Homo sapiens: one gene and its partner. The protein of the gene in region 1 purifies or fractionates together with the protein of each later gene. This does not show direct contact. Each region holds a gene or a part of one and is shown on either strand. Other genes may lie near its edges.

Region 1 (4,257 bases):
GATGCAGGGTCAGGCATGTGACAGAGGAACTTGACCTGGACTGGGGTCAGAGAAGGCTCTCAGGAAGAGTCACTTGAGCCTGGAGAACGAATAGACAAGATGGGAGAGCCTTTCCAGACAGGAGGAACAGCATGTGCAAAGGCTTCAGGGCTGGAGGGAGCCTGGCACAGTGCAGACCAAAAGGTCAGGGTGCTGGAACCTAGAGAGCAATGGAAGTGTGTTTTGGGTGAGGTTAGAGAGAGGCAGGCAAGGTAGGCTTTGTGGGCCACATGAGCGAGTTTGGATTTAAGCAGGGAGATAACTTGATTGGATTTGCATTTGAGAAGCATATTCTTCCATGAAGCCAGCAGGGTTGTAGGTAGCACACCTTCCTCTGAGAGCCACATCATCACCTTGTCTGCACCTCTGGTTTAGGAGCTTCTTTTAATCAGCTTCCTGGGCACAAAGAAAGGAAGAGAAGATGCAGTGGAGGAACAAACAGATTATATCCAGCCTGTCTAACTGTTTGTGTAATTCTGGGGAATGCCCTGAAGTCCATCCATGGACTCAGGCCAAAATTCTTTGCTCTGTCTAACATGACACAAGCCACATTGTATTCTAATTGTTTGTTTGTTTGTTTATTTCTGAGATGGAGTCGCTCTGTCGCCCAGGCTGGAGTGCAGTGGCATGATCTCGGCTCAGTGCAACCTCTGCCTCCTGGGTTCAAGCGATTCTCCTGCCTCAGCTTCTCAAGTAGCTGGGATGACAGGTGCCAGCCACCACACCCGGCTAATTTTTGTATTTTTAGTAGAGATGTGATTTCACCATGTTGACCAGGCTGGTCTCAAACTCCTGTGCCAGGGTGTTCCAGGCACTGGAGACGCCATAGTGAAAGGATGTAGTCATTGTCCTCAAGGGTCTCAAGTAGGAGAGGCTAATCCTTAGATACCCAATTCTGGAGCATGGCAGGACCTGCAGCGACTTGCATAGTGATGCCCAGAGGGGGTCACCTGAGGGAGGTAGGGATGGGGGGAGTAGGGGAAGGTGGGAGAAAGGGAATGCTTCGTGTCCTCAGGCTGTATACAGAGAGACCTGTTCATCATGATTTGCTTTTGTTACTGTAGGCCAAAGCCCAGAAAGTTTTGCAGAGGCTGGATGATGTCCAGGAAATATTTCACAAGAGGCAAGTGAGTCTGATGAAACTGGCAGCCAAACAGACTCGTCCAGTGCAACCTGTGGCCCCACATCCTGAGTCTTCACCAAAATGGGTGTCATCAAAAACCAGCCAGCCCTCCACCTCGGGTAGGTTATTTGAGGAAAAGAAGCTTTGTGGCTTTTGTGTTTCATCAGCACCATGAGGACTGTGACTGGTTGTCTACAATGGATAATGGTCGCTGTTTTAACAGATACTATTTAAAACAAACTACAGATATAGCATAGTGCAGACATGGAAGACATAAACACTTAGATAACACCAAGTGCCTGGATGCAAGGAGAAACACACAATCTACTGAAGGAATAATAAAAATGCATCATAAAGGCCGGGTGCGGTAGCTCACGCCTGTAATCCCAGCACTTTGGGAGGCCGTGGCGGGTGGATTATCTGAGGTCAGGAATTCGAGACCAGCCTGGCCAACATGTTGAAACCCATCTCTACTAAAAATAGAAAAATTAGGCTGGGCGCGGTGGCTCACGCCTGTAATCCCAGCACTTTGGGAGCCTGAGGCGGGCAGATCACGAGGTCAGGAGATCGAGACCATCCTGGCTAACACGGTGAAACCCCATCTATACTAAAAATACAAAAAATTAGCCAGGCGTGGTGGTGGGCACCTGTAGTCCCAGCTACTCGGGAGGCTGAGGCAGGAGAATGGCGTGAACCTGGGAGGCAGAGCTTGCAGTTAGCGGAGATGGCGCCACTGCACTCCATCCTGGGTGACAGAGCGAGACTCCGTCTCAAAAAAAAAAAAATATATATATATATATATACACACACACACACACATACACATATATGTATATACACATATATATACACACACACACACACACATACATATATATACATATATATATATAAATAAATTAGCCTGGGCATGGTGGCGGGCGCCTGTAATCCCAGCTACTCAGGAGGCTGAGGCAGGAGAATTGCTTGAACCCGGGAGGCAGAGGTTGCAGTGAGCAGAGATTGCGCCATTGCCCTCCAGCCTGGGCGACAAGAGCAAAACTCTGTCTCAACAACAACAACAACAACAACAAATGCATCATAATAATAACATAATAATAACAGCATAAAATAGACCCCATTCAGGACCTTTAAAAGGCCCATGTTTTATTAGCAATGGAGTAGTAAAATTGGTTCTTTGAGCAAAGATTTAAAAAATAGGTAAGTTCTTATGCCAATCCCACATGGTCCTGATTACCATAGCTTATTAGTCAGCCTTTAAGATCAAGTCATGCGATGTTCCAACGTTGTTCTTTTTCAAGGTTGTTTTGGCTATTTTAGGTCCTTTTCATTGTTCCATAAATTTTAGAATCACCTTTCAATTTCTGCTGGGATTATGATAGGGATTACACTGGATATATGAGCTAATTTGGAGAGAACTATTATCTTACCAATATTGACTTTTCCAATTCCTGAATATGTTATAACTTATGTTTTTTAGGTCATCTTTAATTTCTCTCAACAATGCAGTCGTTTTGAGTGTAAAGGCCTTAGGCATTTAACATTTTTTTAACCCTATAATGAATGGAATTTACCATATATAATTAAGAATAGGAATAGATTTCTATATAGAAATATAATCCTATCATCTGTGAATAGGGATGCTTTTACTTTTTTCTGTTTCAATCTTTATACTTTTTTTCTTGTCATATTATAATGACTGGGACCTCCACTACAATGTCAAATAGAAATGGTGAGAGCAGACATCTGTGTGTTTTCCCAATATTAGGAAAAGAGTTCAAGTTTCATCTTTAAGTATGATGTAAGCTATAGGTTTTCCACAGATGTCTTTTATCAGATTGAGGGAATTCTCTTCTATTTCTATTTTTTAGGAGAGTTTTTATCGTGAATGATTATTGAGTTTTCAAATGCTTATTTGGTCCATGTATTGAGAGAATGATATGGTTTTTCTTCTTTATTTGTTAATATGGTAAATTACAATGATTTGTTTTCAAATGTTAAAACAACTGTACATCCTTGGAATAAACTGCCCTTGGGCAGGATGTACATGTCATTTGTTTGTGTCGTGTATTGTGGACCTCTGTCATTAAGCACATACATATTCATGGTTTTTATGTCTTTCAGATATATTAGCTCTTTTATAATTATGAAATGTCTCTCCTTCCCTCCTTACCTCTAGAAATACTCTTAAAGTCTATCTTGTGCGATATTGTCACAGCCATTCCAGTTTTCTCATGCTTAGTGTTTGCAGAACATATTTTTTTTGTTTTCTATTCTTCTGTCTTTGTATTTAAAGTATATTTGTTGTAGGCAGCATATAGTTGGGTCTTGCCTTTTTATACACTGTGACCTCTGCCTTGTAATTGGAGTGATTAGATTTTTATGTTTACATCCATCATCATTATTGATATAGTTGGATTTAGAGTTCCTGTTTTGTTATCCTACATGTCTCATGTGCTTTTTATTCCTCTTTTCCTCCTTTCCTGCCTTCCTTTGGGTTAGTAAATATTTTTTAATATTTTGTTTTAATTCCTCTATTGGCTTGTTATCATATCTCTTTGTACTGTTTTTCACCAGACTGGGGATTACCATATGCATCCTTAACTTGTCATGATCTATTGAATTAGTTTCATACCATTCTATGCAAAATATAGGAAATCATACTACATACTACAATGTCATACTTCCATATGCTCCCCATCCATCCTCTGTGCTATTCTTATCATAAATATCACATCTATATATGTTAATCCCCCACTATGGTATTATAATTTTTGCTTTAAATAGTCATGTATCAAATTAAGAGAAATACATACGTGTGTGTGTGCATGTGTGTGTGTGTGTGTGTGTGTGTGTGTGTGTACATACCCCCTTATTCACCATTTCTGGGGTTCTTCATTCCTTATTATAGATTTGAATTACTATCTTGTGTCATTTCTCTTCGGAATAAAGAGCTTCTGTTAGTATTTATTGTTGGGGAGTCTACTAGCAACAAATTCTTTTCTTGTCTTTATTTTTTCCTTTTTGTGGAGAACGGGGTCTTGCTATATTGTCCAGGCAGGTTTCGAACTCCTGGGCTCAAGCTATCCTCCTGC
Region 2 (3,500 bases), on another chromosome or scaffold:
CAGATAACATTTTAATTATTAACCGTGATGCCATGTTTCAATTAGGCAAGACTTCTTTCACGCATGAACTGACTTCCACCTTCAAGCTCAGGAGCAGCCTGCACTCCAGGTAAATTGATCCATTTTTAAAAAACAGGAGCCCCACTTAAAAAACAAACAAACATCAAAACTTATTTCCTATTCACATTAAAGTCAACAGCACTGAGCGTGGTGGTGCGCACCTGTAATCCTGGCTACTTGGGAGACTGAGGTGGAAGGACTGCTTGAACCTAGGAGGTTGGAGACCACACTGGGCAACATAGTAAAACCCGTCTCTAAAAATCAATGGGGTCTAGCAAGCGCGCTGACACGGAGCGCTCCTTACGCACGGGGCCTGGGCTGAGGAGGATGCGCCGAGACGCGCCCTGTGCTGGCTCCATTTTGTGTCTAGAGTCTATTCAGGGAGCGAGATGCTGGTATCCTTAAGGCCTTGGCCGCTATGTGGGGATCCCCAGGGTGCACCCTTTTCCACCCGCAGGGGTCAGGGCTGGCCGGGCCACTTGGTTGGTCCGCAGCATTCCGGCGTGCACCTGCTGGCCCCGGGCAAGGCAGAGATGCGCTGAGGGCATGTGCCCCGCACACCTGGTACTGACGGGTCAGGAGGGCCGGGTTGTGGGGCGGGACTGCTGCGGGCACCATCGTGGGGAGGGAACGAGGTCATGGGGTGGGGGTGATTGTGCAGGAATGGCCTTTGTTTTTCCATGGTCTGGCTTATGCAGCCATCCATCTGGCAAATTATGGCCCCTGGGCTTGTCTGGAAGGTTGAAACTGGGTAAAGATCAAACATCTCGTTACAGAGGTGTCTTGAACATCAATCACAGTCTTTCATGACCTAGGATAGGGACAGTGCTAGGACAGAGGCTTCTCGACTCCGGATTTCTGCAGACTGCGCTGGAGGAAGTCATGCTGCACAGCCTTGTGCTGACACTGGGAACAGGAATAATCATGAAACCACAGATACTTCAAAAGAAAGTTTTGGAGAACAAGATGTTTGCGTTCCCACTGCAGATGCGGCAAGGATCATGAAGAATGTCCCTCAGAGGGACACACTACACGGGACGCCAAAGAATGTGTTCCAGAGTGTGTGGGTTCATCAGCTTCACGGCACCTGAAGCAAGTGAAAGATGCCAGGGAGAGTGCGGAGACAGTCAGTGGGGAGGGTGCTCTCTTTGCCCTGTTCACCTGAGGCTTTGAGAGTTATGCAGAAGCGCTGGGGTGGTGCCTTCAGGCACTCAGAGAGGCTAGGAGACAGGGGAGCAGGCCCCAGTCCACCAGAGACACAGAGGGACCTAGGGAAGCTGTGGAAGAGGCGCTTACTGAGCAGTTATTAGCTGGCTTCAGGACTGCAGAAAGGCAGCAGCAAAATGTTATGGTTTACACAGCGGCACACTGGCAGGTTTCTCATGTCCAGCAAGCTCAGTTTTCACGAGCTGAAGAAATGGTGCAATGGGGTGTGGAGGGAAGAGAAAGGGGCTAGAACAGACGCGCTAGAAGAAAATGATTGGTGACAGACGGTCTCTGTGTATTGCACTAGCTGTAATGTGGCTTCCTGGTGCTCGGACAACTGAGGTGTTAATTCTAAGAATCTTTTTCATGAATGATTTTAAAGAAATTTTTGGATTTTAACGGTATTAAGAAATTTTGGTGGGGTATGAGAAAAAAGTGGGACTTAAAAAAATTCTGTGGTTGGCTGATGCCACTTATGCTAAGAAGAAAAATGACTTTGAGGTTTTATCACATAAAGACATTCTCACAATGATGTCGGCTACCTGGAACTGTTAATAATTATGACATTATACTGCATTTGAGTGAACAGATTATTTTAGAGATGATATATGTTGAAAAATTATTTTACCCCTAAAAAGAGACGGAAATAATTTCATAGAGAAATTAAAAACTGTTTAAATTCAATCTTTTAACTAAGGTTTTGAGTAAATATAGTTTCATGGAGCCTCATCCCAATAGATTTCTCAAAGTCTTTTTATTTATTCATTCACCAACAAAATTAACTTACGCCTTCCATATCCACTGAAGGCCTCTTATGTACTCAACACTGGCTTGGTCCTGGGTTTGGAAAGACCGAACACACAGCTGTTTTTTTCTGGCTGGTTTTTGCTGATGGAGGCCCCCCGCCCTGTGGTGTAATTTCCCGAGCATCTACCCTGATAACCTATGGAATGAGAACCGGATTTAAGCAAATATAATCTAGATTTCAGTCCTGATTCTATCATTTCCTTTCTAGACATGTGACTGGGTGAATTACTTTACACCTCTGAGCCTCAATTCTGTCATCTATAAAACACAGGTAAGAGTTGGCTCATAGAGTTGGTAGGATCAGCAAACTGAAGAGTATAAGAGGCCTTTATTAATCTTTATTAAGTTACCAAACAAAAGTGGGATCATTATTAACAAGCTGGTTTTCCACGAGTGGAAGCTCCTGTCCTCACTGGCCACAGTCCCGTGCATAAATGCAGCTCCTGGGGCCAGGAATGGCTCCTGAGCTTCCTGAAGATCATCAGAAACATGTAAGAAAAAGAATTTATCTCCAAGATAAATTTTATTTCAAATTTTTAGCTGCATGCTAAGAAAATGCTTAACTGCTGGAGAAAAAAAGAATTTTCCAAAATTTTGTAGAAAACAAGTTAGCAGGGAATGTGCTTTATGAGGAATTAGTACAAAGACCTTTAATCTTGGCTAAAGAGTACCAATGATAACTGCGTTATTAAGCTGGAAAGCTGTTGGTCAAAACTACCGTATTTTGAAAGAGTTATGAAAGGGTCTGATTGCCCAGTTTGTTTCACTAGGGCCAGGCAGGTGTGAGACAGCCGGTCAGTCACTGCTGTCCACTGTCCAGGGGACATGACGGAACACCCAGACACTAGGCTTTCCATGCATTGTTAGATTGCTAACTCCTTATGACAGCCCTCCAAGATCTTTTCCCCTGTTTTATAGAGCCGCTCGGAGAAATTTAGTACCATGCCCAAGATGACACAGCCTTCACAGTTCTGTCTGACTTTGAAACTCAATTCTGACCCTTGGAGGCCAGAGAAGATGTGTCTGCCAAGGACAATCACACTAACTCAAGGAGCCTAAAAACCAAATTCCCTGATTTCTGTTGGGCTGGTCATCTGCATATAGTGGCCTTTTTTATGGGCATGGCCACACAGGAGATCGAATTATAGATCAGAGAGTTGAATTCTGTGCAAAGCATTAGATTCATTCTATTTCCACTCAGCAATGGATTTGTGTTGCATATGCTTCCCTGTTCCAGGATAGTTCTGCATGGAGACGTTGGGCCTGCCTAGCATCAGGAAGACATGGAGAATCAAGGCCTCCTGCCTTTCCCACTGCCATGTTCTCCCCTCCCATGCAGATCCCACTATTCTACTAACTTTAAAACACCCATGTGCCAGGCGCGGTGGCTCACACCTGTAATCCCAGCACTTTGGGAGGCTGAGGTG

Evidence for each region. Proteins that work in one complex are often made in the same cells at the same time.
Region 2: the proteins of MCF2L2 (region 1) and SFXN1 purify together in Homo sapiens (affinity purification with mass spectrometry, with the first as the bait; one large-scale study listed by BioGRID). This does not show direct contact.

Annotation. Positions count from the first base shown.
Region 1 is NC_000003.12:183,292,324-183,296,580, reverse strand, and holds part of MCF2L2 (probable guanine nucleotide exchange factor MCF2L2), read left to right. Parts: exon of another isoform or gene 1-435; intron 436-1,103; coding exon 1,104-1,281; intron 1,282-4,257. UniProt on the Homo sapiens protein: Probably functions as a guanine nucleotide exchange factor.
Region 2 is NC_000005.10:175,481,560-175,485,059, reverse strand, and holds part of SFXN1 (sideroflexin-1), read right to left. Parts: intron 1-3,500. UniProt on the Homo sapiens protein: Amino acid transporter importing serine, an essential substrate of the mitochondrial branch of the one-carbon pathway, into mitochondria.